Linked DNA regions of Homo sapiens. The protein of the gene in region 1 purifies or fractionates together with the protein of each later gene. This does not show direct contact. Each region holds a gene or a part of one and is shown on either strand. Other genes may lie near its edges. The genes, in order: EDDM3B, CHST12, PLXNA3, CNTNAP3, SEMA6A, POGLUT1 and NXPE3.

Region 1 (4,700 bases):
CTGGTGGTCTTGACCAGAGTGAGCTGAGTTTAGGGCTGAGTCTTGAGTTCCTGAAAAACAATTAGGTCAACACCTTGTGATGCATACTTCAGAGTCAGATGTGATATATAGGAACATTGTGGAAACTATGGCTAGGCTACCTGACATTTTACTAAGGCAGTAAGGACTACAGCGTCAGCAAAGGTTATTGTTAATGAGGACTAAACTCTGATTTTTTTTATCTTGCCCAAATTCCTATCTAAGGGGTCTGGGGAGTCATGCCCTACAAATCATCAATTCTCATCAGATGAGTTTTATTTAACCCTGTATATCATGTTTTACTTTCCAACCTGACTCTGGCATAACATTACCAGACAAACAAGAAAAAGTATTTTGCCCCAAAACATGTTTCTTTGCCACATTTTGAAATTGCCCTGCAAAGCTGTTCTTTGTGGGGGAAAATTTGCATCTGTAAAGAATCTCTATTAACATAGCTAAATATTTTTCTTCCAGACCTTCCAATCCTAAAGATATTAATTAAGATCTGAAAGGGAAACATTTGTCATCTATTGTCTCTAAGGGCAGCCACTATAAGACTTCGAAAGAATTGGTCTCTACCATCTTTATTTTAACCTGAATATTCCCTTTCTATCAATCTCAGGTCTTTAGACAAAACTAGTTGTCAACCAGAAAATGTTTAAATACACCTATGGCCTGGAGGCCCTCCACTCCCCATCAGCTTTGAGTTGTCCCGCCTTGCTGGACCAAACCAATGTATTTCTTAAATGTATTTGATTGATGTTTCATGCCTCTCTAAAATGTATAAAACCAGCTGTGCTCCAACCACCTTGGGCACATGTCCTCAGGACCTCCTGAGAGCTGTGTCATAGGCCATGGTCACTCATATTTGGCTCAGAATAAATCTCTTCAAATATTTTACAGAGTTTGACTCTTTTTTTTTTCTTTTCTTTTGTTTTGAAATGGTGTTTTGCTCCTGTTGCCCAGGCTGGAGTGCAATGGCGTGATCTCGGCTCACTGCAACCTCTGCCTCCCAGGTTCAAGCGATTCACCTGCCTCGGCCTCCCAAGTAGCTGGGATTACAGGTGCCCACCACCACGCCCAGCTAATTTTTGTATTTTTAGTAGAGATGGGGTTTCACCACCTCGGCCAGGTAGGTCTTGAACTCCTGACCTCAGGTGATCCTCCCGCCTTGGCCTCCCAAAGTGCTGGGATTACAGGCGTGAGCCACCACACCCAGCTGACTCGTTTCATCGACAATAACAAACTGCCTAGTAAAACTTCAGATACTGGCTACCTAATCATAACTATCTGGCCACCAGTTTCACTAGATACTCTTTCACCTCTCAACGAAAGTCCCACAGTTCACAATGTTATAAGTGGCTTTCTTCAGAGAAGTTTCTGTGTAACATAGCATAACCCTCCAGGGACTTCCCAGAACTTTGTCAGAAATTGAGTGCAGAAGCCAGGTCTCTCGTTGTCTACTGATAGCACCAGATAACCCCTTTCTGGGGTCACCTCACTCTAGGGTCTTGCACTTCTTCTGTGCCCTGGAGTCAGCCTTTGATGTTTGTAGCCTTTGCTTGAGGCCACTGTCTGAATAAACTCAAGTGTTCCAGATGAGAAGATACAGGAACAAGTTCACATAATAAGGCTATTCCCCATCACCACCTCCACTACCAATCAGCTGGAGCCTTGCAGCTCCCCCTGCTATTCCTTTCTCCACTGCTGCAGATTTCCAGGGCCCTGAGGAAAGGAGGACTCAGACTCTGCTCTTCAGATCCACACACTGATCCCAACTACAACCAGTGACCTGAACTTGGAGTCTGAGTAGGGTAAGAAGGGCTCTGCTGAGGATGTTTGGGGGACAGCCAGGAGCACTGAAAGGAGGCTGATTGAACTTTTAGATAGCAAACAATGGAGAAGGATCCAAATCATGGAAAACAAAGGTGTGAATTCTGGTCAGCCTCAGTCCCACTGATACAGGCTTTCCCTGCCCCTCCCTTCCTTCACCCCCAGTCTTCTCAAACACAATGCATTAAAACCGCTTACATCCTGCTCTTCTATCCTCTGTAGGTCTTTATCATCAGGACAGGGTTCCACAGATAGGAAGTACCGACCCTTTGTTCTGTGTCTGATGTGGACATTTGACATCATTAGAAGTGCTCTCAAATACATGCGTCTCATTAGACACTTGCAGGTCTGTAGGGAGCTATTATTAAGTCCATCTGAGGACACCAATGCTCAGAGTTGTGAATCAGGTTAGAGATTCAGTAAGGGCGGGAACACTTCTCATGGTAAATGAGGACAGAGCACTAGTTTAAACGGTAGACTCTTTCAAAAAGATCCCCACACTCCATGCTATCACCACAGAAGCCACTGTGGGGGCTCTTTTAGTCTTGGTGCTTGATTGATTACAGGAATATTTCAAATCTGGAATTCTGGTTGGGTGTAGTGGCTCATGCCTGAGAATCCCAGCACTTTGGGAAACCGAGGTGGGTAGATTACTTGAGGCCAGGATTTTGATACTAGCCTGGCCAACATGGCGAAACATTGTCTCTACTAAAAAAAATACAAAAATTAGCTGTGTGTGGTGGCAGGCACCTATAATCTCAGCTACGTGGGAGGCTGAGACAGAGAATCTATTGAACCCTGGAGGTGAAGGTTGCAGTGAGCCAAGACTGTGCCACTGCACTCCAGCCTGGGTGACACAGTGAGACTCTGTCTCAAAAATAAATAAACAAATAAAAACCTCAAAACTGGAGTTATTTTATGATGACATTTTCAAGGAGCAGCTCTGACAAACCAAGATCATTTGTAATAGTGATAATTAGGGGAATGACCCCTGAGAAGGAATATGGGTAGTTAGTAATGAACATACGTTCCACTCAGGCTTTGGAGAAAGTGTTATAAGGAAGTCAAGATTGGAGAAGCATCATTAAGTAATTGGAGAAGCAGGCAAGAAGTAATTGCAGGCTAGGCTGTCATTTTAGCGAATCGAAGCCTTCCTACCTAGGAACCACTTCCCAAGTAGTTACTCATTTTCTACATTTCCCTAAAATCTGACAACCCTTTCCACTTCAAGGACATAAACCTTAAAATATCATTCTCTTTTGGACACATGATCTCCTGAGAGTTGGTCTGGTAAAAAGGAGCCAGCTGGAGGGTGATTGGCTCCTCAGGTTGGGTGTAAGAGAGGGATGAGAGGAGATGGTTGGAATTCTCAAAATGAACTTCATCTATTTTTTCTAATTATGTGTTTCGCTTACACAGGCTGAAGCGTGTTTTTAGTTCTTAGAAACTCTATTCTCTAATGAGAATTAGCATCTTCTCATCGGGGAACCAAATAGTAAAATTGCACCCAAGTGCCTGCCTGGTGGGGAAGGAATTTTAAGGTGGAGTTCAGCTCTCTGGGCATTGTCTGGATAATGCTTTTCTTTCTCTTCTCTGTGGACACGCAGGCGGCCCCGGTGACTGAGATGGCATCGTCTCTAAAGATCTGGGGCACACTCTTGGCCCTACTTTGCATCCTATGCACACTGCTTGTACAGAGCAAAGAAGTTTCTTGGAGAGAATTCATGAAACAGCACTACTTAAGTCCAAGTCGAGAATTCAGAGAGTACAAATGTGATGTCCTCATGAGAGAAAATGAAGCTCTGAAAGACAAGAGCTCTCACATGTTTATCTATATCTCATGGTACAAAATCGAGCATATATGCACTAGTGACAACTGGATGGATCGCTTCCGAAATGCATATGTATGGGTCCAGAATCCTCTCAAAGTACTCAAGTGTCACCAGGAGAATTCCAAAAATAGCTACACAGAGAGCAGGAGCTTCAACTACATTGAATTCCATTGTAGCATGGACGGGTATGTTGATAGCATAGAAGACCTAAAGATGGTAGAACCTATCGGCAACTAGAAAGTCTATGCACATCCTCAGGTATTGGTAGAGTATTCAGTGCTTTCTAAGTAGCAGCCCCTGCCTCCATCAATAGTCCTACCACTCCCCTCTTGCATTTATTTGTCAATGTTTTCCAAATACTTAGAGTTATGAATAGCATAATTTCTTGATACCATAACTTTGCCTGTGTTGTTTCTCTGCCTGGAATACACTTTTGTCTTCATTTACCTAATTTACTCTTATACTTTTGTCGACATTCAGCTCATATGGCATCTGTTCTTGATTAACCCAAGACTTTCCTGATATTGACTCTCTTGATACATACCCAAGCTGAACAATCTTCCCTTCCCTAAATAAATTATATGACTGCAATGTGTGTGACATTCATATATGTTATGTGCACAGAGTGAGTATAGTGTGATTGATATGGGTGTGTGTGATCTAGACTATGCATGTGATTGATGCTGTGCAAGGGATTGAAGGTGTATTTTATGGGTGCATATCTAATGTATGTAATATGTTTGTGTATATGATGAGGGTATGAATGATTGTGTGCTTAGTTCAAGACAAGTTGTGATGTAGGCATTGATTGCAGCATCAATTTGAAATAATCAAAAGTGTCAGAATCCAGTTTTAAAGAGTTGATTCAAGCAAAAGGCTAGGAGTGGCCATTCGGTAACACACAGACTCCACAGAAATGGAGTCAGTGTTCCAAAGCTGAAAATTAAGTTCTTGCTTATGTAGGAAAAAGACAAAAGAATTTAACAGGATTACAACAATTTCTATAACAGCTGGTTT
Region 2 (4,051 bases), on another chromosome or scaffold:
CAGTGAGCCAAGATCACGCCACTGCACTCCAGCCTGGGCGACAGAGGGAGACTCTGTCTCAAAAAAAAAAAAAAAAAAAAAAAGCTAAAACCTGAAAACAACCCCAATGTACATCAGCAAGTGAGTGTAAAAAGGGTGAAGTGCTGATTCATGGGTGAACGCCACAGGTCGCACACTGAAAAAGGAGCCAGACGTAAAAGACTGCATGTTCTGTGGTTCCATTTATATGACATTTAAAAGAGGCCAAAATCGTGATGAAAATCATAGACTGCAGAGGAGCACGCAGAAACTCGGGGCGATGGAAATGCTCTACTGTTTGATTGCAGAGGCAGGTACAAGGTGAATATGTTTGGCCACGTTCCTCAAACTGCATACTTAAAATGGGTACGTTTTATTGCATGTAAATCATACTCAATACATTTGATTTAAAGTTAAAAAGAAAATGTTTGTGGTTTTATGAAGCTGATCTCCAGAGGCTAACACTTCTCTCTCTAATATGAATGCAATGGCCCAGCTCTCACCAATTTCCACAGTACAGAAGAAAACACCAGTGCAGAGTTCCGCACAGACACGGAGGGACTGGGAGGAAGAGGGAAGGGATACTGAGACCAAGTCCGGCCTCTGCTGAGTGGCCTGGGCCAAGTCATTTTATGTCTGACTTTCAGTCCATCTACAAAAGAAGAACAAACTAGGCCTTTCTGCTAACCAGAGCTACCGAGAGCACAAAAATGAGAAAACACAGCTAAGTGGTTGATAAAATAGTAAAGCACTTTCTTTAGAATCTGCCCCGGCCTTACTTATCTCTCTGTCTTCATCAGGCTCAAATATTTGTTACACAAATATGTGTTATTTTTATTATTACTCATGCTTTCTACCAAGAGCCAGTTATCAAGTCAAAAAAAAAAAAACTGTCTATTTGCAAATTGATTTTAAAATAACAATACCAATAGCTAACATGTTGTTAAAAGTGATGTTCTAAGGGCTTTGCACATATTACTTTGTTTAATCCTCACATGAACTGGGATGAAACTGGGAAAAGTAGCTACAGACTTGCACAAGTCTACATAGCTAGCAGTGTTTAGAGCTGGCCTCAGAACTCAGGCTGTTGTTGGAGAGCCCCCCTTCCTTGCCACTCTGCTCTGCTGGCCTCTACAGTATATGTTTAGGCAGAATTGGTAGGTTTCACTAGACAGTCAAATTTCTATTTCCTTTACTGCTGAGGGAAGTAGCTTCTTCGTGTCCAAATAACCAAGCTCTTGAGCACTAAATCAAGTGACATGACCTTCAATAAGAAGCGCAAGAATGTTTCAAGTTTATTTATTTATGCTACTGACACAAAGACCAGAAACTACCTACTTCTTTTCCAGCTTTACAGACACTATATAAGGCAAATAATTCACTGCAGTTCCCATCGCTGTAGTCAACAAAAATGTGGAAAGTTTCTGTTCCTGGTGTCAATATTTGCTCTCTGCATGTCCTGGGCTGCCTGGAACTTACACACAGTGGTACTACATTAAAACCTCCATCGTGAGACACATTTTCACGCGGTACCTCCAGGACTATGGTTTATTTGCTTATACAATTACTTCATTTGTGTTCAGTTAACTATATCTGACAGTATATCCAAATAAAAATATGTAATTAACGGTCACATTGATGAGAATGGAATGTTGATTTATATCCCAGGAGACCTGAATGAAAACTGAGCCCAAACTTAGCCTTTGAAGTAAAGTAACTTCCCTGCAGAGCCGGTCCTAGAGCACAGAGGCTATCAGCTCACCCTGTTCTCTTCCTTCCCGTCTCTAAGCCCTCTGTTGGCCCTTCCCAGGTAGACAGGAAATCCACGCACGTATACCAGTCCAATATTCCCAAACTGGGTTTCAAGTTCTTAGAAGACAGGGATCATATCTCATGTACCTTCTGTATTCCTCATAAGGCTCAAATATTTGTTGCATAGGTATTTGACTCTAGAATCCAAACGATAACTCACTTGACTCAACTGACTTAAGAGTTAAATCAATTCGTGGCTGGGCACAGTGGCTCACGCCTGTAATCCCAGCACTTTGGGAAGCCAAGCTGGGTGGATCACCTGAGGTCAGGAGACCAGCCTGGCCAACATGGCAAAACCCTGTCTCTACTAAATACAAAAAGTAGCTGGGTGTGGTGGCTGGCACCTATCATCCCAGCTACTTGAGAGGCTGAGGCAGAGACAATTGCTTGAACCCAGGAGGTGGAGGTTGCAGTGAGTCAAGATTGCCCCACTGCACTCCAGCCTGGCCAACAGTGAGACTCCGTCTCAAAAAAAAAAAAAAAAAAGAGTTAAGTTAACTCAAAGAAATTATTTCAGAAGAAAATGATAATAAATCTCACTATGATCAGTTTAAGAACCTGCTTGGGGCTTTACATGCAAAATATATCCAGGCTCAGCCAGGTGCAGTGGCTGATGCCTGTAATCCCAACACTTTAGGTGGCCAAGGCAGGATAATATTTTGAGACCAGGAGTTCAAGATCAGCTTGCGCAACATACCAAGAAGCCATCTGTACAAAAATTTAAAAATTAGCCAGGTATGGTAGTATACACCTGTAGTCCCAGCTACTCAGGAGGCTGAGGTGGGAGGATCTCTTAAGCCCAGGAGGCTGAGGCTGCAGTGAACTATGATCACACCACTGTACTCCAGCCCTCCAGCCTGGATGACAGAGTGAGATCTCATCTCAAAATTTAAAAATAAATAAATAAATAATTTAAAAAAGTAAATAGTTATCCAGGCTCTAACTTGTCAAGTCCCCTCTGCCCTACCTACACCCCACCCTGCCCCAATCACCATCAGCTCTCACCTGCGTTATTGCAACAGGCTCCAAACCAGTCTCCCTGCTTCTGCTCTCAGGCCCACACAATCCATTTTCAACCCCAAAGCCACGGTTATTCTATTAAAAGTTGGATCAGTGGCTTCCTATCTCGAGTCCTTCTGATGGCCCGTGACCAGGACTCCACTGATCTCCTCTTCTATCACAGTCCCCCTCGGCGACCCTCTCCAGCCTCAACAGTCTCCTTGCCGTTCATCCACCGCACCCAGCAGGCTCCTGCTGCTGGGCCTCTGCACCACCATCCCTCAGCTGGGGAATCCCAGGGCAGTCCCACGCTTCCTTCAGATCTCTGCTTGACGCTCACCTCCTCAGCAAGCCTTCCCTAACCACCCTGAGAAAGTAGATCCCAGTCTCTACCCTGCACTCCCCATACCCTGGTTTTCTTCATAGCAGCATTTATCCCATCCCTACCTCAAATCTTTTATTTATTATTTTTAGAGTAGTGTCTCACTGTGTCACCCAGGCTGGAGTGCAGTGGTGCAATCGCAGAATCCCTGAACTGCTGGGCTCAAGCCATCCTCCTGCCTCAGCCTCCCAAAATGTCAGGATTACAGGCGTGAGCCACCATGCCTGGCCTCAAATAGCTCATATACACCAGTTAATCCACTCACTGTCTTCCTGCACTGACTTAAAAGGGAGGTCCTCGTCCTGCCTCACAGCGGGTATTCTCAAGGCTTACAGTAGCATCTGGCACTCAGTACTTGCTCAAGAAAGAGGTGATGTTCTAACAAAAACCAGACAAACTCTGATTGCCTAATTTCTGAAACTTGGGGACAGGTGAAGGATGATGTATAATACTGCTCTCTCTACTGGTCGGTATGTTTTAAAACCCCCTTGGAAAACGACGAAAGAAAGCGCTCGGCCGGGCGTGGCGGCTCAGGCCTGTAATCATAATTGCTTGAACTCAGGAAACAGAGGCTGCAATGAGATCATATCACTGCACTCCAGCCTGAGTGACAGAGTGAGACTCTGCCTGAAAGGAAAAAAAAAAAAAGTGCTCAGAATCTCTGATAAATGACCACAACGACGAGACAGCATACAGAGAACAATGACAATAACCAAGAGGAAATCAGAGCAAGGAAACCCTCCCTGTTAACAGGGCCTGTGCACAGAGGCAGGCGAGGGCCGCCATTCCATCAGAGCAGAAAGCCCATCTGAGACTGTTCCCATTTGGGTCAATTCAATG
Region 3 (4,051 bases), on another chromosome or scaffold:
TCAACGAGCTGTATTTCTATGTCACCAAGTACCGCCAGGAGGTGTGTGTCATCCCCACAGACTCCCAGTTACTTGGTCCTGAAGGTGCAGCCAGTGACAAAGGCAGGAGGGTTGGTGGGGGTTGGGGATTGTTCACGGTCTCTCCCCTGACCAGGGCCTGGGGCCGGCACAGGTGATGCTCTCTGGGATCACAGGTAGATGCTGGAATTTGAGGGACCCAGGAGATAAGCCACTGGCTGGGTACAAAGTGGCCACTGGGCAAAAGTTAAAGGGCCTGAGCACTGGAAGGGATGGGTCAGGCTTTGTGATGAGAAATAGCCAGAGGCAGGAGGACATAGAGGTGTGGACTTTAGGATGGAGTCTGGGCTGGACACATTTGCAAGCCTGTGGATGGCATTTAAAGCCCTGAGCCTGGATGAGCTCACAGGGAAGCCACAAGTGGGTGTGGAGGGAGAAGCGGCCCAAACACTGAGCCCAGGGCCCCAGGACACAAAGAGGGGAGGGGAGGGGAGGTGCAGCAGCCAGCGGGGAGGATGCCTGAGAGCGCCTGGTGGGGTCTGGCAACCTGAGCCAGTGAGGACCCCTCACAGGTCAGGGAGTGGCAGTGGCCGGCTCCATCTTCCAGTGCTGCTGCTGGTGAAGGATGGTGACCTGCAGAACACTCACTGGGTCTGGCGAGGGTCACGGGGTCCTGGCGCGAGGGAGGCTTGGGCTAGGAGGTAATGGGAGGGGGAATCCAGCACGGCGAGTCCAGAGTCCAGGTCACTCTAGGGACAGGCCGCACCCTAGCTGTGGAGAGGAGGAGGAGAAAGTGCTGTCGTCGGAGGGGCATTTGGGGCTGGGGAGAGCTGGTGGGTTTGTACAGGGGCTGCGGGGGAGGACGGAGGGATGAGGCGTGTGGGAGGGAGGAGCCCAGCTGGGAAGTGGGGACTTTGCATGGCAGGAGCTGCGCCCCCTACAGAGCCCAGCTCCAGGGGACTCCTCTCCCCCAGATTCTCACGGCTCTGGACCGAGATGCCTCTTGTCGGAAGCATAAGTTGCGGCAGAAACTGGAACAGATCATCAGCCTCGTGTCCAGCGACAGCTAAGGTGGTGGAATCGGTGAGGAGGGGGCTTCTCAGTCCTGTGCCGTCCTCCCATCCAGGGGAGTGGCTGGCTCAAGCCTGGGTCCCCGGGCTGAGCCCTGGATTGGGTATCGTGGGGCAGGTCACCCTGGCCACGATGCCCCCGGCACACCCAGGCCCCCTTCATTAGTGCCTTGCTTTGGGCCCTGCAGGGGGAGGGGTGACAGGGCGAGCCCCCACCCCAGCAGCAGCAATACCCCCACCCTCCTGCCCTGTGCCCAGGTGTTGGGACAGTCCCACCCTCCCTGCTATTTATATCCCTCTGCCTATTTATTGAATCGAACTTCGCCTCTGTCTCCATCTGTAAATATGTGTCCCCCCACCGGATGTCGCCACCCTCACTCACCTGCCTCTTCTTGAGCTGTCCTGGGCCCTGCCACCCGTCTGGGCTCCTTTGTGTAGCATTATCAGCCTCGGTCTGGCCTCTGGCACCTCACCCTTGCCATGGCTGACCCCACCCATTCCAAGGCGGGGTCACGGTACCAGCAGCACTTGGGGTGAGGCCTCCAAAGCTTCCTCAGAATTGTGGCTGTGCCACGCTGGACCACAGGGTCCCCCTCAAGCATCTCGGGGCCCTATTCTCTCTGAGCACCTGGAGGGCTGGACTCAGGCTTGTGCCAGGGCCTGACTTGGGCCTGGGGGCCCTAGAACGCTCCTCCTCCTGAGCCTACTGCCAAACGTCCTCAGTGTTGTCTGCACCTGCTCCGACTCCTTCAGCCGCCCCATTCAGCGCCCGCTCCGTCCAGTGCCCGCCCTGTGGGGCCAAGGCGGCCGTGCCTTACTACTCTGTGTCTTCTGCCTCCTCTGAGGAATCTGGCCCTGTCTGACAGTCCCAGACCCCCCGTTCTCTCCTCTTTAGTTGCATGAGTTTTTCTTTGTTCATGGAATGTTTTTTCCTGATTAAATGTTGGGGAAATGCCATCCATGTGGGGCTCTGTCCTTGGGGCAGGTCAGTAGACCTGTGGATGCTGCATGAGCTGGAGCCCCATTGTGGGAGAAAGGACCACTCCTTGCAGGGTCCCAGAGGGTTTGGGGAGGTTCAGGGCCATACCCGACCCATCAGCAAACCCCGGTGGCTCTACCTTCAAGACAGATTCAAGGTAGATAGATTCTCCTCCCTTCCACCACCCCCACCCAGCTCTCCTGTGCCATCGTCTATCTCTGCCTGGATGCCAGTCTCCCTGCTTCTGCCCTGGCTCTCTTCAGCCTGTTCTCAGCGTGGGAGGCAGAGAGATCCTGTTATGATATAAGGTGGATCATGTTGCCTCACTGTTTAGAACCCTCCGGCGGTTTCAGCTGCAGCCAGCTCCTTCAAAACCTGACAATTGCATACTGTCGAGGTTGTGGCACCCATCATGGTGCACCTACCAAAGTCTTACTCCCAGGCCTGTTAAGTAATGCAGGTGGGGAGAAGGTGACATGCAATTTATTTATTTATTTATTTTGAGACAGAGTGTAGCTGTGTTGCCCAGGCTGGAGTGCAGTGGCAAGATCACAGCTCAGTGCAGTCTCAAACTCCTGGGCTCAAGTGATCCTCCCACCTCAGCCTCCTGAATAGCTGGGTGTATTAGTGCACTCTACTATGCCAGGCTTTTTTTTTTTTTTTTTTTGAGATAGGTTGCCGCTATGTTGTTCAGGCTGGTCTTGAATTCCTGGTCTCAAGTGATCCTCACCCCTCAGCCTCCCAAAGTATTGGGATTACAGGCATGAGCCACTGTGCCCGGCCAGGTGAGATGGAATCTTATTTTTACTTTTTATGTTTTTTTTTTTTTCTTTGACGGAGTGTCGCTCTGTCGCCCAGGCTGGAGTGCAGTGGCATGATCTCGGCTCACTGCAAGCTCCGCCTCCCAGGTTCACGCCATTCTCCTGCCTCAGCCTCCCGAATAGCTGGAACTACAGGTGCCCACCACCACGCCCGGCTAATTTTTTGTATTTTTAGTAGAGACGGGGTTTTACTGTGTTAGCCAGGATGGTCTCGATCTCCTGACCTCGTGATCCACCTGCCTCAGCCTCCCAAAGTGCTGGGATTACAGGCGTGAGCCACCATGCCTGACCTTTTTTTTTTTTTTTTTTTTTTTTTTTTTTGGAGACGGGATCTTGCCCTGTTGCCCACGCTGGAGTGCAGTGGCAAAATCAACTCACTGCAGCCTTGATGTCCTGGGCTCAAGTGATCTTCCTGCCTCAGCCTTCTGAGTAGCTAGGATTACAAGTGCTTGCCACCATACCCAGCTGTTTTTTGTTTTTTTTTTTTTTCTTTAGTAGAGATGGAGTCTTGCTGGTTTTGAACCTCCTGGGCTCAAGTGATCCTCCTGTTTTGGCCTCCCAAAATTCTGGGATTACAGTTGTGAGCCACTGTGCCCAGCCAAGTGAGATGCAATTTTTTTTTTTTTTTTTTTTGAGACAGAGTTTCACTCTTGTTGCCCAGGCTGGAGTGCAATGGTATGATCTTGGCTCACCGCAACCTCCGCCTCCCGGGTTCAAGTGATTCTCCTGCCTCAGCCTCCTGAGTAGCTGAGATTACAGGCATGTGCCACCACGCCCAGCTAATTTTGTATTTTTAGTAGACACAGGGTTTCTCCATGTTGGTCAGGCTGGTCTCGAGCTCCCGACCTCAGGTGATCCGCCCGCCTCAGCCTCCCAAAGTGCTGGGATTACAGGCATGAGCCACTGTTCCTGGCCTTTCTTCTTTTTTTGTTTTTGTTTTTTTTTGAGATGCAATTTTAAATAGGGTGGCTTGGACAGCCACCTGAGTTGGGTTTAAAAGCTGCCAGCTCCAGCCGTCCAGCTGTGGGGCCACGGTGCCAGACAGTGGTGGTGGTTATAGGACCGTAGGTGTTTACCAAAACTAGACAAGTCCACATAACAACCAACTGCACAAATAAGGAGTAAAATAATAAAGAGAAGGACGTGTGAGGCAGGACTGGATT
Region 4 (4,568 bases), on another chromosome or scaffold:
CTGTGAGATCTCTTTCCTGACACATTTCACATCTAAGTGAGTTTCCTAACTAACCCACACACACTCTATAGTAGGCTTACCCTTCTTTCCCCAGGCTGGCTGGCGAACTTGCAAAACATAACCATTTAGGGGAAAAAATTGAGGCAATTAAAATTAAAAGTGTTTTAGGCTAAGTAATGAATAAATTAACCCACTGAAAAGTTACATCAAAGGCTATTACTCAGCATTTTACCAGTTACAGGAATTTCTGCAAAATCTGCCCAGCCATTTGTTTGTGTATCCCTGGGATCAGTGCCCAGCGTTCAATCTTTCTCTTGATGCTTCCTGCTGTTTTCAGGGACTCAATGAGAGCAGTAAGTGACCTTTCACTCACTGCAAGTCTATGGGCACTGAAGTTAGGAAAATATTTCCCTTCATGCAGAATCTTCCTAACAAAGCTTTCCCATGTATTTGTCGGGTCAAATAACATTCAGATAAACTGCACATAATCCCCAAAATGCCAAATGTTTAGAAAGCTTTTTTTTTTTGAGACAGAGTTTTGTGTTTTCCTCTTGTTGCCCAGGCTGGAGTGCTATGGTGGGATCTCGGCTCACTGCAACCTCCATCTCCCAGGTTCAAGCGATTCTCCTGCCTCAGCCTCCCGAGAAGCTGGGATTACAGATGCCTGCCACCACGCCCGGCTAATTTTTGTATTTTTAGTAGAGACAGGGTTTCACCATGGTGGCCAAGCTGGTCTCCAACTCCTGACCTCAGGTGATCCACCCACCTCGGCCTCCCAAAGTGCTGGGATTACAGACGCGAGCCACTGTGCCCGGCCTATAGAGCTCTTCCCATGAAGAGCCATTTCATGCCATCATCAACAGGTTGCCTTCGTGGGTGGCCAATGTGCTTCTCGAAAACCAGCTGTGAATAACGTGAGCAACTCATGGTGTCTACATGAGAAGGAAACTTTTAGATGTCCTTATTGACTTTCTTCTTGGTATTGAAGGTGGTATAATTATTACAGTTACATAGTTTTATCTGGAAGAATTACTTGATCTAAAAGGTAATTTAAAATTAGTAAAATTTATTAGATATGAGGATACTAAGTTTCATCAACGAAAGAAGACTGAAAACACCCACAGTAGTAGTATTGAAATTTCACGTGTCACTCAGCAACTCGCGAGAGTCCCGTCTGGTGCTGAGTCCATTTGGAATATCTGTCCCTGCCCTCCCCTCCTCCAAAAAGAATGTTCACTATAAACGAGAAGAGCTTAATTTCTATGGGCTTTGTAATCCTTCCACTGGATTCCAAGCAAAATAACTACCAATACAACTAATCCTGAGAATAAAAAGTAATCACAACTATGCAACAAAAACAGGAAAGGTGGTGGCAGGGTCTCACTCAGATTTCATTGCTTTGCTTTTCTCCAGGAAGGTCTTTTTGAAGCCCTGTTTATTCAATAGTAAGAGTGACCTCTAGTGACTTTTTTTGTTGTTGTATTTTGCCAGTTGATTGGTCAATTACTCTAGCATGCCTTTCTATAAGTAGCTCATTTATATGTTTGTTTAAGCCAAACGGCAGTTTCCATTACAAGACCCAAGGATTTTGATTTAAGTAACAACGTTTTATTCACAAAGCCTTCTCACAAAAGCAGATTAAAGTTGAATCTGAAACACGGTACAGCATCTGACCAAAGGAATCCGGAGCTTGTTTTTTGGAAGGGCACACCAAGTGTAGGATTAACTGAGGCGCAACTGAATCATGATGCACAGTGAGTTCATGAACCCATGTGCGTGCCCTGTGTGTGAAGAACCAACCCACCCTTGAGCCCGCGGGCAGAACAGCACTGAGCTACGGCAAACTTTTCATGACAGCTTAGGAGAACTGCTGAAAGCTACCCTTGGTTATCCTGCAATAATCTAAATTTCCAAACATGGCCACTGGCGTTTATTGGAACTTATTTCGAAAGAGATTTTGGTAGGAGAGGGCTGAGGCTGACAGCGGGGAGATGCCACTGAAAGAAAAATAAAAGTGATTTGAGAAGGAAGAGGAAGACATTTTAAAAATTCTAATCTCATGGTTTGATTAATCAAGAAAGAAAGACAACTCTCTGCTAGAGATTTACTCCAAGCCAAAAAAAAAATGTGCAATGTTGTGTAAACATTTTTATGTGTGATAAAATATGGGTACATTATGTTTTGCTCATCTGTCTGGAATATCATCATTACATTAGAATCATAGCCCATTCTAGAAATAAAGGCTTCCTAGGTGTTTACCAAATTAAGGAAAATAAAAAACAGGGAACCTGATGGCAAATTAAATAATGTAAAATATTAGCATCCAGAGAGGAATCATTTTCAAGATCACCTAAATGACTGGCTGAGTTTTGTCTTTAAGCAAGAACTTTCTACTATGAGAAACGAAGCCCCTGACAGGGGTGTTCAAGTGTTATTCCCTTAGTAGTTAGGACAGGTTATTAATTTAGTTTCACCTACAGGCGCTCTGTCCCTATACTGCATGGAAGTTAATTAGCATTTTAACTCTGAAGCTGCCAAGGTCGGCAAAACTGTAAGCTGCTAACATCTAAGTTGATGCAGTATGATGTAATGTCTGCCAGTTTTTTCCCTGTTAGACTTAATTCCTACAAAATATTACAATCCTAAAAAGGAATAAATGACAGCATTTGCACGCTAATCTCTTATTAAGATGCTTTTCAGGTTTTACAGAAACGTCCACTTTCTCAATGAATATTCAAGTACATCGATTAAAAAGTCAAAACATGCATGGTATATCTTAGACTCCCCCACAAGAGGAAAGTCTATTGTAAACAAAATCGTCTTTTTCGGGTTGCAATTCCAAATTTTTTTTAAGGTTCTTCATGTTCAGGAGCATGTTCTGCAATTCCACTTCCAAATATTACCGATAATAAAAAAAAAAAAACAAAGTTTTCCAGACAGCCTAGCGCAAGTTTTAAACCATTTGCTGTACTTACGTGGATTTCCTGCTCCCACGGGGCTCCAAGTCTGAGTGGGGAGAAGCAGCAGCACCTTGAGGACGGCCCAGGCCACTGAAGCCATGCTCACTTCAGCCAGGCGCCCTGAGACCCGGGCACGGCGACGGCCGCTCTGCGTCGCTCCTGCTCTCACTCCCGTCCCCTGCGCGGCTCTGACGCTGCTCTGCCTCCCCTGTCCAGTCTCTAGCTCTCTTCCTCACGCACCAGCAGCCTCCCTCGGCGCTGCAGACCCTCCCGCCAAGCCGCGCCCGGCCCCAGCTGCGTCTCCGAGGTCGGCCCCGCGGACTCGCGCCGCAGCTTTCTGGAGCGCTCGGGGCCGCGCGGCGCCACCCCAGGCACGGAGGCGGCAGGTTCAGGCGCGTCCCGGACACTAGGCGCGGGAGGCGGCCGGCAGCAACGCGAGTCAAGAAGCGAGCGGGAGGGACGCCCCAGCTCCGCCTGGCGCTCTCCTCCCGTTATACCGGCAGCTTCCTCCGTCCCTCTCTCCCACCGGGGCGGGGCGGCCGCGGTGCACGGACTCGCGCCAAAGACCGCGCCGTCAGCCTCCGCCTGCAGGTGGAGAACGCCAGGCTTTATCACTGCGCTGTTCACCCAACGCAGGGGCTGCACCCAGGAAAATGCTGTCCTGTTTGAGTTCAAATAGGGAAGATGGGGCAGAAATAACTCTGCGGCGTGTACTTGGGCAGACGCGCGCACACTTTGATTTTGCTAGGAATTCTGACTTGTAGAGAACCAAGCTGGGAAACCGGGCCAGGAGCAGGGAGAGGCCGGTGAGCCTGGGTTGTGCGAGTGCAAGCCTTTATTTAAAGTTTTAATATTTTGTCTATCATGGGTTTTTTTTTCTTTGCGATTACATTCAATTTTAAAACTATTTCATTCATTCAGGATTAGCGTTACTTAACAGTTGCTCCTGAGACTAGTGCGTTAGTCCCTTCACCCTAGTCCTGGCCTTGGTGGAAGTCTAAAATTTACGTTTTATTCCAGCTTTCTGTCCAAAAGAGCAACCCCTGCAAGTGTAGGATGAGGAGCTCAGTCCAGCAGCAGCTAACACTGCACTCCTTGCGCGCCTACTGTGTGCTAGAGGGAGGGGCGGAGGCAGGGGGCGGGGGGGGGGGTCTTTCTCTTTTTCTCTTCCTCTGCTTCTCAAATTCACAGTAGGGGCAAAGATTGACAAACTCACTCACATTACCACCACCGCGAGTTTCCAAAAAAGAAAAAAGAAAGAAAGATACTTTTTTAGATGGTATCTCTAAGAAATAGTGTATTAATCTTCCCTTTAGAAAGACAACTTTGAAAGGCTTTTTCATTAAAATGAATTCAAATGTAATAGATGTAAAATGTAAAATGAATTCAAATGTAATAGATGAAGAATCTTACAAAGTCATTCTTGAATTATTAATTGGGTTCACTTAAACTACTTTTGCACAAGAACTCTGTAAATAGCACGTCTTTTATTACAGAAAAAATTATAAATCTAAAGTTTTGATTGACAGATCAGTTGCCTTCAGTGAGACAGAAAGAGAGAAAATGGAAATCATTTTCTAAATTGGACCTAGAGTAAAACAACAAATG
Region 5 (4,051 bases), on another chromosome or scaffold:
TTAGAGGCACTGCATGGGCTGAGGAAATGTAAACATTGTTCCTATTATGGAAATGATAGCAAGACAGAAAAGGTACCTTCTCTGGTCTCGGGAGACGCATTTTTCATCTACTAAATCAACTCTTTCTGGAATATGTTTCATGTATTTTACTGGCAGGTATCAGTGGCACAGAATTAGAATGAAAGGAAATAAAGATCTCTACCCCTTCCCAAGCCCACAACACGCAACCTTAAACTTCTACTGAAATGTTGTCTTTGTCACAGCCGAGACCTTGAAGCTTTCTCATGGGGGTTTTTCTGCTAAAATATTTTGATTTCTGAAGTGATGGTTTTAAAACCCAGAAACCTTAGCCTGAAAAGTACATTCTCTTTTTCTTTCCTTCCTAAGGGTCCTCCTCCCTTCAATTGTGACATCACAGTTGGTTGCTGTGGAAATGATTGTCCTGTGACAAAGGATTGTGACTTAAGTAGAAGCAGCAAATATCTCTTAAGAAATAAAGATTCTGTGATCCAACAAATACCCTTGGTAATAAAAGGCAGTCAAGGCAATTCACCATAAGGAAAGAGTGTACAAGACGGTAAGATATCAAATAATTTTCAAATGTGATACTTTTCAAATATTTCCAGATTTATCTCCATCAGCTTTTAAGGGGTAGAAACTGAGAAGCAAAAAACAGCCGGAAATTTGGCTGTAACTCACACCTTTTATGTGTGAAGCTCCCCAAACAGTGGGGTGTCCTGCATTCAAATATATTTTAGTACCTATTCACCAAGGAAATGTGCTAATGAAAATTTTCTTTCTTAAATTTGCATTTCCTTATTATGCTAAAATAGCTACTGATTTTTCTTCAATTTTGATTATGTATGGGGTTCTACCGAACACCGTTTTTAACCCCCTACATATAATTGCACAAAAATGTACACCTGTGGATAAAATGGTTTTAATTTCTCTCATTGACTTGGTGATTTCAGTGGGAGTTGAACACAGGCTAGACGGCCCCAGTAATGGGGTGGGGGTGTATTAGGTGTTTTTTTCATGGCAATGAGTATTTCATGAAACCCTTCCAGGCTACCAAATTTAGGGGGACTGGATATTCCCAATAAATGTGTATTATAATAGGAAGCTATTTACAATTGACTTTGGCATTCTACAATTTAAACTGCCCTCTCAGTTTAAAAGGAACGTGGAAAGAGTAAAGCTAGAGCAATTCATTGGTTTCACTGGGAAAACTGCAAATTTTTCACATGTATCCATTGCTTCTTAGCCTTACTTTTAGCTCCCAAATATCATTCTTCTTTCATGTCTGAAGGTCCTTGGCTATTTTAGACTCATGAAAGCTACTTATTCTTTCACTGGGAAGAACTCTTTTTTAGTGGATGATATTTGAGTTCAGGTTTTTGGTTGTTAACAAGTTAAGTAGGATCTGACCTTTCAGGAAAATGGTATCTCAGACAGATTTTTTCCCCCGTCTCATTTTGTTATATAAAGAGTGGCCTTAAAAACATTTTTGCATGTCTTCATCTATCCATGGGGAGGCAGAGGGCTTTCCTCATCTGCTTGTGTAAATTCAGAAACGTCCAAAGATGGAAACAGATCAGAGAGTAAGTTGAAAGTGCAGTTGAAGAAGATAAGGTAAACGTTATTTTTGGAAATGCCTTTCAAACTTAAAGCTTTCTGCTTATATCATGAAAAAGGCCAAAGAAGCATTCACAGAAATGATCAAGTCAACTTTGTGGAATAGCCATTGTGAAGGCTTGGAAACAGCAGACTTGTCAGTAGTGGTGATAAAAGCAGCTAGAGAAGATCTCAGTGGGCTTGGAATTGCAGGCTCCCACTTACTGGCTGGGTGACCTTTTGGCAAGTGACTTAACATCTCTGGGCCTCAGTTTTTTTATCTGTAGCATGAGGTGAACACACCTAATCTTACTGCCTTACTGGATTGTTACAAGAATCAAAGGAAATAAAAAATAGGAAAGAGCTTAAATGCTGTAGTTTGCTGGACAAATCTAAAGCTCAAAAGAAGCCACAAAGGAGAAGTGGTGGGTTAGTGGCTCACAGAGGGCTTCCAAGTGATAGTCGCAGCTGCTCCATTGGATTCCATTTGCTATTGGTCTCCCATGGGAGAGGAGTAGACCTGTGCTTCCAGGTCCAAACTTCGTGCCTTCTAAATGTAGTCAAAAAGGTGATATGAGATTTCGAAGCAATATAAGGGAATGCATACTGTTTCAGGATGCCTATAGTTACTGAATTTTGAAATAATTAAAACAACAGAAGTGGAAAATGTTGGCAATTATAGTTGGATTCTCAGTGGAGTGCAAATCCTGGGCAAGTACCACATTTTTTCGGCATTTATAACCCTTGCCATCCACAGAGCTCTTAGTTGGGTAACTCAACAAATGATGGCTGAATAAATGGGTTTTCAATACATTGTAGAGCTATTTTTAAATGAACTTCTAAACTTGGGAGGTAATCTTTAGAGTGACTATCACCCTTGCTTTTGAAGTCATGGAAATAAATTCTATCTCCAATCATATAAAAGAATTTTAATAGTAGCATCTATCAGACAAACAAAAATAAATCTATAATGGTGCTCAGTATTTGCTCAAAACAATAAGAAGAGAAACTATTTCAAAAATGAAATTAGTTCTGGGAAAAATCCAAAAGAGTCGATGACGATAAATGGGTTATTTACAACAACAGAGTGCCCCAGTGGAACTGAATAATTAGAAAAAAAAAAAATGCATCTCTGCAAAGGGCAAAGGGCAAAGGGCAACAGGCTAGAGCTGAGTATCCCTTGCTTCAGATGCTGCCTGGAAGCCCTGGGCAAGTAAAGGGCCCTTGGAGGGTGGTGTACTCCCCTCCGCAGGTATCCTCCCACTGCAGAGAGAACAATCAGAGTTGGCTTCTCTACCCTAGGGTCTTGAAATTCCTTCCTCTGCCAACCCCTGCATCCTCTTCTGCTCTTACCAATTGAAAATGGGGCATTAGTAATGAAAACAGTATTTGAAAAATCCTTTGCATTGATTCATTAACCACCAGCTATTTCTCACCAGTCATAAGGTGCTAAATGGTTAGTCTTTCCACCTTCCTATTGCAGGAAGCAAGGCACACCCTGGCTTAGAGATTTCTCTGAAATCATGTCTTAAATTGGCAGAACTGAGAAAGAATAGAATCTCCACTGTTTTTTTTTTTTTTTCCTGAGGTGAGAGTTTTCAGATGCTGGAGGGAGACCTCAGAGAGGAAATTTGAAGTTCTTTAGAGTCCAAAGCAATGAAAAGATTATGAAGGACCCTGCCCCTAGACCCTGCAACATGTGATTCAAAATAAGAACAATTGTAAACTGAAAACTAAGAGGAAGCCCAATACAATTCTGACTTTTCCTATGATGACCATGTTAATAAATTTTGAAATATCAAACACTACATTCCTTATTTTAAAAAATGTTTTCTAGTAGTCCTGCTCATGGATACTATTCCGTGCAAAGGGAACCTAGCACCAGGCTCTGAGACAATTTGCTTTAGAAATGATGTTTTCCCCTAACTTAGGGTTGGGTTGTTTCTTTATTATCACTCTCCTAGTATAACAAGGTTTTGGCTCCAAGCATCTTTGTGGCTGCCTTCAGCAAACATTTACCAAGCACTGCACTAGGTGTCGGGGAAGGACAATGATGAATGAGGCATAAACCAGCAGGGAAGAAGGCAAGTGCTTGCATACAACTCTGTCCAAAGTGTGGCTATGTCATGAGTTACATCACTTCTGCTTCAACAGTGGGCAAAAGCTTTACATTGGAAATGGCATTTGAGCTAAGCCTTAAAGATGCACAGGATCTTAGCTGGAGCAGAGAGAGCAACAAGAACTGAGCCTTGGAGGGAAGGAAAGGGAAGGCCGTAGTGAGTAATAGCAAATGGTCTAACTCCCTTCTAGTCTGTTAGGCTGGAGGCATGAGCCACCCTTCCATACTCAAGCTTGCTTCATGGCTCTCATACAGGCTGTTCTCTCTGCCTGGAATGTCCCTACTCATTTTCCCACTCATCAGACCCTATCTTTAGGG
Region 6 (4,051 bases), on another chromosome or scaffold:
TTCTATATATTTGAAGTTGAATGCTCTTAACTACCAACTGAATGGCACGTTCACATATGAAGACTTCTTGTGATTCCTGCAAGACAGTGAGAGTGTGAATGACCCCTGCTGTGGCCAATTTAAGAAGGAAAAATATTAAAGGTATGCAAAGGGTGAGGAAGAGCTGCTGTTCTATGTATAGTTCCATTAAATTTATTAAGAGGCTTTGTCTTTTTTTTTTTTTTTGGCTTTAGAGAGGCATTAAGAAGTAGGGCATGAAGGCACAAAAAGGGAACCTGAAATCCAATTGCAATAATTACTCATGCAATTGGCCTCTTTCTATGTGGCATTATAGAAACCTCCTGAGTAACACAGTTTATGGTTTTACAAAAGAGAACTCCTACATCATTGCATGGCATGGCTACCGCTTCCTTAGACCATTCAGAGAATGATCCCCAAGTATTTTTCATAAACCCCATAGGGTTTCCTACATTAAAATAAAGTGACAGAGATCACGCCTTGAATAATTTCACAATTCCAGCAATGAGTTGTACTACTTCCAAATGACGAATTTTCTGCTCCAAATAATGGGACAAAGGGCATCATCACATGGACACAGTCAATTTCACAGTGATGGACTCACACAGGTGGATGATCTGAGGCACAAGCTGTGATTGGTCTTAAGAAAATGAAAGGTAGAGTTGGGTTCAAAATCCACATCTCACGATTTCTGGTCCTTATTCATCCAAAAAGTTGAACTGCTTCATATCAGTGTATTAGACACATTTTAAATCTTTCTCAAGAGTTGCTCTGGGTGCAGCATGATAAGGAAAACCAGGTATTTGGCTTGATAGCAGATATTCAAGGTATAGGTGCCAAGCTTATGGTAAGCTTCTCACCGTAGGATATCTGAGATCTGTTGCCACAAAGAGGACTATGGTCCTATGATGACTACTATAGTTCAGTTTTCAACATTTTGGGAATAATTTGATCATAACCTTTCCTTCTCGTTACATTATAAGACAGGAATTTAGAGTATTCACTCAAGAGGTTCTCCCAGTAACAGGTGATGTCATCCATCTGCAAATGGTTCCTAATAAACTGGCTTCCCCTAGAGACAAGATTTAACAAGAAAATGTTAAAGCACAGAATTTAATGATAATAGCAGTCTGCATTTGAGTGCTCACCTTGTGCCAAGCATTATTCAGCATTTTATATAAATTAATTCATTTGAGCCTCAAGAACCAACCCTATGGCAATCATATCCACATACATGCATGTAGCAATACAACTTAACAATCTTTTTCCTTTATTTATTTATTTATTTATTTATTTTTTGAGACGGAGTTTCGCTCTTGTTGCTCATGCTGGAGCGCAATGGTGCGATCTTGGCTCACTGCAACCTCCGCCTCCCGGGTTCAAGTGATTCTCCTGCCTCAGCCTCCCGAGTAGCTGGGATTACAGGCACGCACCACCACACCCGGCTAATTTTTTTGTATTTCTAGTAGAGATGGGGTTTCACCATGGCTAGGCTGGTCTTGAACTTCTGACCTCAGGTGATCCGCCCACCTCGGCCTTCCAGAGTGCTGGGATTACAGGCGTTAGCCACCACGCCCGGCCCATCTTTTTCCTTTAAAACAAGCATATGTAGACATGTGTGTATGTTTTCCCCCAGGACAGGTTTAGTTCTGAATTATCTCCATATAATGAGGATAAAATACAGATGTCACCATGATAACAATATTCAGATAACTTTGGCTAGGGCATAATGGGGATGACAAAAAGTAAAGTGGAAAAGGGAAAATGAACAGAACTCACCTTTCAGCAATCTCTTGAGCTACATCATCATTTGCTTTTACAAATTGTAACAGCTCTCTAAAATGAAAAGAATTTTAGACTGTGAAATATAGACCAACTTCATTGGCACTAAGTCAGAAAGACGATATAGATTGAGGTCTATGGATAATTTTAGGTATGTGGATGGTGGATTATTTCCTTCAAGCAAAGATATCAGGGTTCTCTCAAGAACAAAATAATAACAAAAAAAAACCCCCACACACTGATTAAAGATACCCTATTGTAGATTTGGGACATATTTGAGAAAATACAGAAGTTACCTTATATATTTACATATATTTTGTATATTTATATTATATATTATATTAGATATTTATATTATTTTACATATTTATATATAAATATATTTATATATAGAAAAAAAATATATATACACAGATATCACCATGATAACAATATTCAGATAACTCTGGCCCTTCTCTATACTTCTTCCTAGCTCCTCCTGTCATGAAAGGAAATTTGCTGAAGCTTCACTTGAGTCAATTCTCATGCTGTATCTGAAAATCCTTTTGACAATATAATAAGATTGAATATCCCTATCTTTAGTCTTGGAGAGATTAGAGCTTTTTAACTTCATTTTGTCTGAACGTTTCATTTGAAACCAGTATTAAAGCGCTTTTTCAAATTAAATTCCACTTATAGCCTACTTGGATAATAATGCAATACTATATATGCAAACCAAGAGGAAAAAAAGCTTTCAATGGAAAAAAATCGTAGGACTAAATGTCTTACATGACTGGTTTTAAGGCATTAAGGCATTTTTAAAAGCAGATTGGAAGGGTCTTTAGAAACTCTGCATTGGGGGATAACTGCTTACTGGACATTGGAGAGATCTGTTTTGACTGGGATATAGTGAACCCATGGCTTCAGCTGTGGATAGAAGAATTCTAGCCACTCATCACCAACATGGAAAACAAGTGAGCCACACAGGAAGAGGTGTTTAAACCGGAAACTTGCAGCTACGCCTCGAAAATTAAACAGATACCTGGGGAAAAAAGAACAAAATACATTTGATACTATATGCCTGCTGCCACAAATATGACCTTTTATGCTTATTCTCCCCTCCCCTTCTTTCCTTTTATGATTCCTCTCCATTCTCTTTCCACTTTGAGTTTTCAAGGACACATTAATATGTTCCTAAGTGGTTTCTATCAGCCACTTTACCAGGGCTAGGACTACAGGTTGTTCTGGGAATGGCAGGGTGAGGAAAAATAGGGGATATTTTCTCCAGACAGCACTAGATAGGGTCAGGAGCTGGGTGCCGGGTAGAGTGTATACAGGGCTCAGAAGGAAATGACAGCTTGTAGATTTGGAACATATCTGAGAAAATAAATGTTCAATGGTAAACATAAAATAAAACGAGTGAAAAAAATTTCACAAGCTTTTCTAGGCCTAATGTCTCTAACTAGTCATGGCCTCCCAAAGCCTTGTTTTTCCTCTAGTGTACCCCATCTGGTCGAAGGTCTCCACTGCTTCCTGGACATCACCCTCTTCTCTTAAAGTATAGAGCAGCGGTCCCCAACCTCTTTGGCACCAGGGACCAGTTTCATGGGAGACAATTTTTCCATGGATGGGTAGTGTGGGGGAGATGGTTTTGGATGAAACTGTTCCACCTCAGATCATCAGGCATTAGTTAGATTCTCATAAGGAGCACGCAACCTTGATCCCTTGCATACACAGTTCACAATACAGTTTGTGCTCCTATGAGAATCTAATGCCAAGGCTGATCTGACAGAAGGCAGAGCTCAGGCGGTAATGCTCGCTTCCCCACTGCTCACCTCCTGCCATGCAGCCTGGTTCCTAATAGACCAGTACCATGGCAGGGGGTTGGGGACCCCTGGTGTAGAGAGGAGAATGAGGAAAACCTAATCAATTTTCAGAGATTGCCCACAGGGGAAAAAAAAAAAACAAAAAAAGCTGTCTTCTTCTCAGCATTTCTTATGCACGCACCTGTCGCCAACCAGAGTTGCTTTCACCATATAGCTCCTACTCTGCGTGTCATTAGCACTCCTAACTCTGAGCCACCCCCACCACCACTGCCCTCCTCTAGACCTGGTTTTACCTGTTCATCTAATTCTTAGTCCCAGAATTTTATTTTATTTCTCTTAGAGACAGGGTCTCACTATGTAGCCCAGGCTGGTCTTGAACTCTTGGGCTCAAAGGATCCTCCTACCTCAGCCTCCCGAGTAGCTAAGACTACAGGAGCATGCCAGCA
Region 7 (4,051 bases), on another chromosome or scaffold:
CTCAGTCACTAATAAATAGCATGTCTGAAACCTGAACCCACGAATAAAATGAAAAATTTTGTTTTGGTTTTGTTTTGAGGAGTTGTGAAATTTAATTTTGTTTTCATTTTGTACTGAGCCATAGAAAATACTAGTCTTCTCAGCAGTACAGTAAACACTGTACATTGAGTAGTGCTCCCTCTGCTGGCCTTCTAAAAGTATGGCATGAACCCACTACATATGTACATAATCTGGTATGACCAAAAGCTGACTTCAGGGTGGAAAACTGAAGAGTTTTATTTTAGGAGCTCCTACAAACCACATACTTTATGGTAGCAACTTTTCTCCCATACGGTAATGAGTGGACATAAAGTATGAAATTTTTAGGGTGCCCAGATATCCTTAACAAAAATACCTCCCTTTTATCCAACAAAAAAATTCTCTCTACCAAGGAATGTTTAAAAACAATATATTTCACTAAAAAGTAAAAAACATGTATACATTCTTTCAAACAATTGTACTTTTTGTTGAGACAGGGTCTCACTCTGTTGTCCAGGCTGTAGTGCAATTGTGATCACAGCTCACTGCAACCTCAAACTCCTGGGCTCCAGCCTTCCTCCCACCTCAGCCTCCCAAAGTGCTGGGACTACAGTCATGAGCCACCACGCTTGGCCAGCATGGTACTTTTTAACCATGTAGCTTTTATAATTTTTTATTTCTTAGTGATGTTATGGAATGTTGAAGAAAACACAAATTTTAATTCATACTGGTTCCATATTCCTTTCTGCACATTATTCCATGTATTTCTCATCATGCTGAAAATATTTTAAGCTTACATTTGAAATAGAAATTTGAACACAATACTGCAATAATTTCAACAACTATTTAGCTTAAAAAATATAGTTTTCTGTGGTATTCCTGACTTCCTATGCTTATTAAGTCAACCCAGCAATGTTGCCATATTCATAGTTTTTTAATCAGTAGGTTCAAATGATTTTAAAAACTGTTATTATGTTACTTTTTAAAGTTTCAGTTCATTAGATACAAAGATAAAACACCAGCCTGACTACCAGCCCTACCAGCCCTGTTCTTGGATTATTTTTTTCTTTACATAAAATAGATGGGGTCTTGCTATGTTGCCCAGGCTGGTCTCAAACTCCTGGGCTCAAGCGATCCTCCCGTTTCAGCCTCCCAAAGTGCTGGGATTACAAGCATGAGTCACCACATCTGACCCTTAGATAACTTCTATCTGTTCTGTGAATAAGGGATTTTACTTACACAGCTACTGTGTAAACATGCTATGTGGTTCTAAAGGAAAACACAGATATGAGGGTAAAGAACAAAAATTCAAGGGTAAAAGGTCTTTAATTTGGACTCAGATAAGCATTAAGCTTCATTTTTAAAACACTAATGAAAAATACAAATCTATGTTTTTTTTTTTATTCACTACCTCTTCTGTATTGGGCCAAGTTGAGAGAGAGGTAAGAAACACATACCGAATACCAGAAAGTCTCCTAAATGGGACAAGGACAGTGGAAAAGAACTCTTCAAATCATCCCCAAGAAAAAGCAGTACATACCTCTGGAAGAAAGCACTCTCTGCAGCGGTTAGGAGACCTTTCAGGTATCCACCTTTGAAATGGGTAATTCTGCTGCTGCAAGGGAGCTTCTTTGGTTTGAAGCAGAACCAGGGCTCCCCAGTGTAGAGGTCTGTAAAGTTACACAGGGGCAGATTCCCAGGAAGACACACGTTGCACTCAGTAGTTTCAGAAATTCTTCCTGAACGGAAGAGACTCTTGAAATAGACCCTGTCTGGTTTATCTTCCTGTAAGCGCTGAAGAACTCTGATCCCTTCACTGGGGTGGACCAGAGATACGGATACTTTAACTTTGCCTGGCCATAGCAAAGTAAAGAAAACCTTGTAAAACCCATTCTGGTAATCCACCACCCTGCCCACAGCCCCAGCCTGCAGCTTGAGGGAGTGAATTCTGGCCTGCAGGTAGTCTCCACCATACTTCTTGGGCTTTCTTTGAAAATCCTGCACATGAACCAGCACCTCAAGCTGGCTTCCCACCTTAAAGAAGGCAGCAGAGTTCAAGATGACAAAGTAGCTGGAAGAAGGGTCAGTGCTCTTCACAAAGGGGACTGGGCCCACATCAGGAACCTGCCGGTGCAAGGCAGCCAGCAAGGAGTCCTCCTCCATGCGCTCCTGGCTGGACAGGGTCTGCTGATCATAGCCACAGTAGGGATTTCGGCTAATTCCTGTCACCTGGGAGGAAACAAACTGTCCACTGCTGTCGATGAAAGTGGCTGAAACAGTCTCATGGTCCAAGTACTGAAGAAGAAGACACAAACAACAGAAATTACCACTATAATAGGTCTCTGTATTTTGGCATAAATTCAGAGGGCTCCCCACACTTCTGTGAGTTTTAGCTCCAGGAGCTCAATCAGATTCTCACAGTGAATATCAAAGAAAAATCCCCTTGGGCTTCCGGGAAGAGAAAGGGAAAAGGACCCATTTTGAAGTATGCAGAGCACTGTGTTGTTCTTAACAAAGCTGCCCCTCAAGAGAAACCACTTTATCAGAACCTAGCCTATTGGAGTTTTATCAGAGCCTAACCAACTTGAGAGAAGGGAAATATCCAACTCCAGCCCACTCGAGCCACCCAGTCCAACCTAAGATGGAGAAACACCAAGAAAAAAGTAAAGGAATGGAGAAAGATATACCATGCTAACACTAATCCAAAGAAACCAGTAGTAGTTATATTAATTTCAGACAGAGCAGATTTCAAAGCAAGGAAGGTTAGCAAAGATAAAGAGGGTCATTACATAATAATAAAGGAGTCAATTCTCCAAAAAAAAAAACAACCCTTAACATGTATGTACCTAACCAATGAGTATCAAAACATGTGAGGCAAAAACTAATGGAGAAATAGATGAATCTACATTATAGTCTGAAACTTCAACAATCCTCTATCAGAAATACACAGATCCAGCAGGCAGAAAATCGGTAAGGACATAGTTGAATTCAACAGCACCATCAATAAACTGGATATAGTTGACATCTGTAAACTACTTCATATCAAGCTCACATGGAACATTCACCAAAACGGACCACATTTTGGGCCATAAAATACACCTTAAAAATTTTTTAAAATAAAAATCATACAGTGTCTTCTCTTAAGCCATAATGAAATTAAACTAGAAATCAATAATAGAAAGAGAGCTGGAAAAATCCCAAAATGGTATACAAATGGGTAACATACAAAATCTCATGAGAAATTTAAAAATATGTTAACTAGGTGAAGGTGAAAATATAATTCATTAAACACTATAGAATGAAGCAAGAGAAGTGCTTAGAGGGAAATTCATAGTACTATACATATTTTAGGAAAGAAAAACAACCTAAAATCAGTAATTTAACCTTACATCTTAGCAAACTAGAAAAAGAAGAGCAAACAATATCCAAAATAAGCAGAAGAAAAATAATAAACATGATAGCAGAAATCAATGAACTTGAAAACAGGAAATCAATAAAGAAAAATCAATGAAACCCAAAGCTGGTTTTTTAAAAGATTGATAAAATTGATAAGCCCTCTACCCAGGCTAAGAAAAAAAGAGGGAGGACACAAATTATTAATATCAGAAATGAAAGAGAAGCCATCACTACAGATCCCATGGACATTAAAGGAATAAAGGAATATTATGAACAATTCTATGCCCATAAATTTGATAACCCAGATGAAATGGACCAATTCCTTGAAGGATACAATCCATAAAGAATGCACCTAATGATGCAAAAGTAATATTATAACTAGTGGAAATCAAATATAAAAGAATGAAGTAGGCCAGATGCGGTGGCTCACACCTGTAATCCCAGCACTTTGGGAGGCCGAGGCAGATGGATCACAAGGTCAGGAGTTCAAGACCAGCCTGGCCAACATGCTGAAACCCCATCTCTACTAAAAATACAAAAATTAGCTGAGTGTGGTGGCAGGCGCCTGTAATCCCAACTACTCGGAAGGCTGAGGGAGAGAACTGCTTGAACCCAGGAGGCAGAGGTTGCAGTGAGC

The links.
Region 2: the proteins of EDDM3B (region 1) and CHST12 purify together in Homo sapiens (affinity purification with mass spectrometry; one large-scale study listed by BioGRID and IntAct). This does not show direct contact.
Region 3: the proteins of EDDM3B (region 1) and PLXNA3 purify together in Homo sapiens (affinity purification with mass spectrometry; one large-scale study listed by BioGRID and IntAct). This does not show direct contact.
Region 4: the proteins of EDDM3B (region 1) and CNTNAP3 purify together in Homo sapiens (affinity purification with mass spectrometry; one large-scale study listed by BioGRID and IntAct). This does not show direct contact.
Region 5: the proteins of EDDM3B (region 1) and SEMA6A purify together in Homo sapiens (affinity purification with mass spectrometry; one large-scale study listed by BioGRID and IntAct). This does not show direct contact.
Region 6: the proteins of EDDM3B (region 1) and POGLUT1 purify together in Homo sapiens (affinity purification with mass spectrometry; one large-scale study listed by BioGRID and IntAct). This does not show direct contact.
Region 7: the proteins of EDDM3B (region 1) and NXPE3 purify together in Homo sapiens (affinity purification with mass spectrometry; one large-scale study listed by BioGRID and IntAct). This does not show direct contact.

What each region holds. Positions count from the first base shown.
Region 1 is NC_000014.9:20,766,675-20,771,374, forward strand, and holds EDDM3B (epididymal secretory protein E3-beta precursor), read left to right. Parts: upstream 1-1,729; 5' UTR 1,730-1,832; intron 1,833-3,458; 5' UTR 3,459-3,476; coding exon 3,477-3,920; 3' UTR 3,921-4,274; downstream 4,275-4,700. UniProt on the Homo sapiens protein: Possible function in sperm maturation.
Region 2 is NC_000007.14:2,409,756-2,413,806, reverse strand, and holds part of CHST12 (carbohydrate sulfotransferase 12), read right to left. Parts: intron 1-4,051. UniProt on the Homo sapiens protein: Catalyzes the transfer of sulfate to position 4 of the N-acetylgalactosamine (GalNAc) residue of chondroitin and desulfated dermatan sulfate.
Region 3 is NC_000023.11:154,471,598-154,475,648, forward strand, and holds part of PLXNA3 (plexin-A3 precursor), read left to right. Parts: coding exon 1-41; intron 42-992; coding exon 993-1,088; 3' UTR 1,089-4,051. UniProt on the Homo sapiens protein: Coreceptor for SEMA3A and SEMA3F. Necessary for signaling by class 3 semaphorins and subsequent remodeling of the cytoskeleton. Plays a role in axon guidance in the developing nervous system.
Region 4 is NC_000009.12:39,285,005-39,289,572, forward strand, and holds the start of CNTNAP3 (contactin-associated protein-like 3 isoform 1 precursor), read right to left. Parts: upstream 3,164-4,568; 5' UTR 3,061-3,163; coding exon 2,976-3,060; intron 1-2,975.
Region 5 is NC_000005.10:116,449,241-116,453,291, forward strand, and holds part of SEMA6A (semaphorin-6A isoform 2 precursor), read right to left. Parts: intron 578-4,051; exon of another isoform or gene 388-577; intron 1-387. UniProt on the Homo sapiens protein: Cell surface receptor for PLXNA2 that plays an important role in cell-cell signaling. Required for normal granule cell migration in the developing cerebellum.
Region 6 is NC_000003.12:119,489,321-119,493,371, reverse strand, and holds part of POGLUT1 (protein O-glucosyltransferase 1 precursor), read right to left. Parts: intron 2,822-4,051; coding exon 2,654-2,821; intron 1,855-2,653; coding exon 1,798-1,854; intron 1,091-1,797; coding exon 934-1,090; 3' UTR 1-933. UniProt on the Homo sapiens protein: Dual specificity glycosyltransferase that catalyzes the transfer of glucose and xylose from UDP-glucose and UDP-xylose, respectively, to a serine residue found in the consensus sequence of C-X-S-X-P-C.
Region 7 is NC_000003.12:101,799,497-101,803,547, reverse strand, and holds part of NXPE3 (NXPE family member 3 isoform 1 precursor), read right to left. Parts: intron 2,314-4,051; coding exon 1,559-2,313; intron 1-1,558.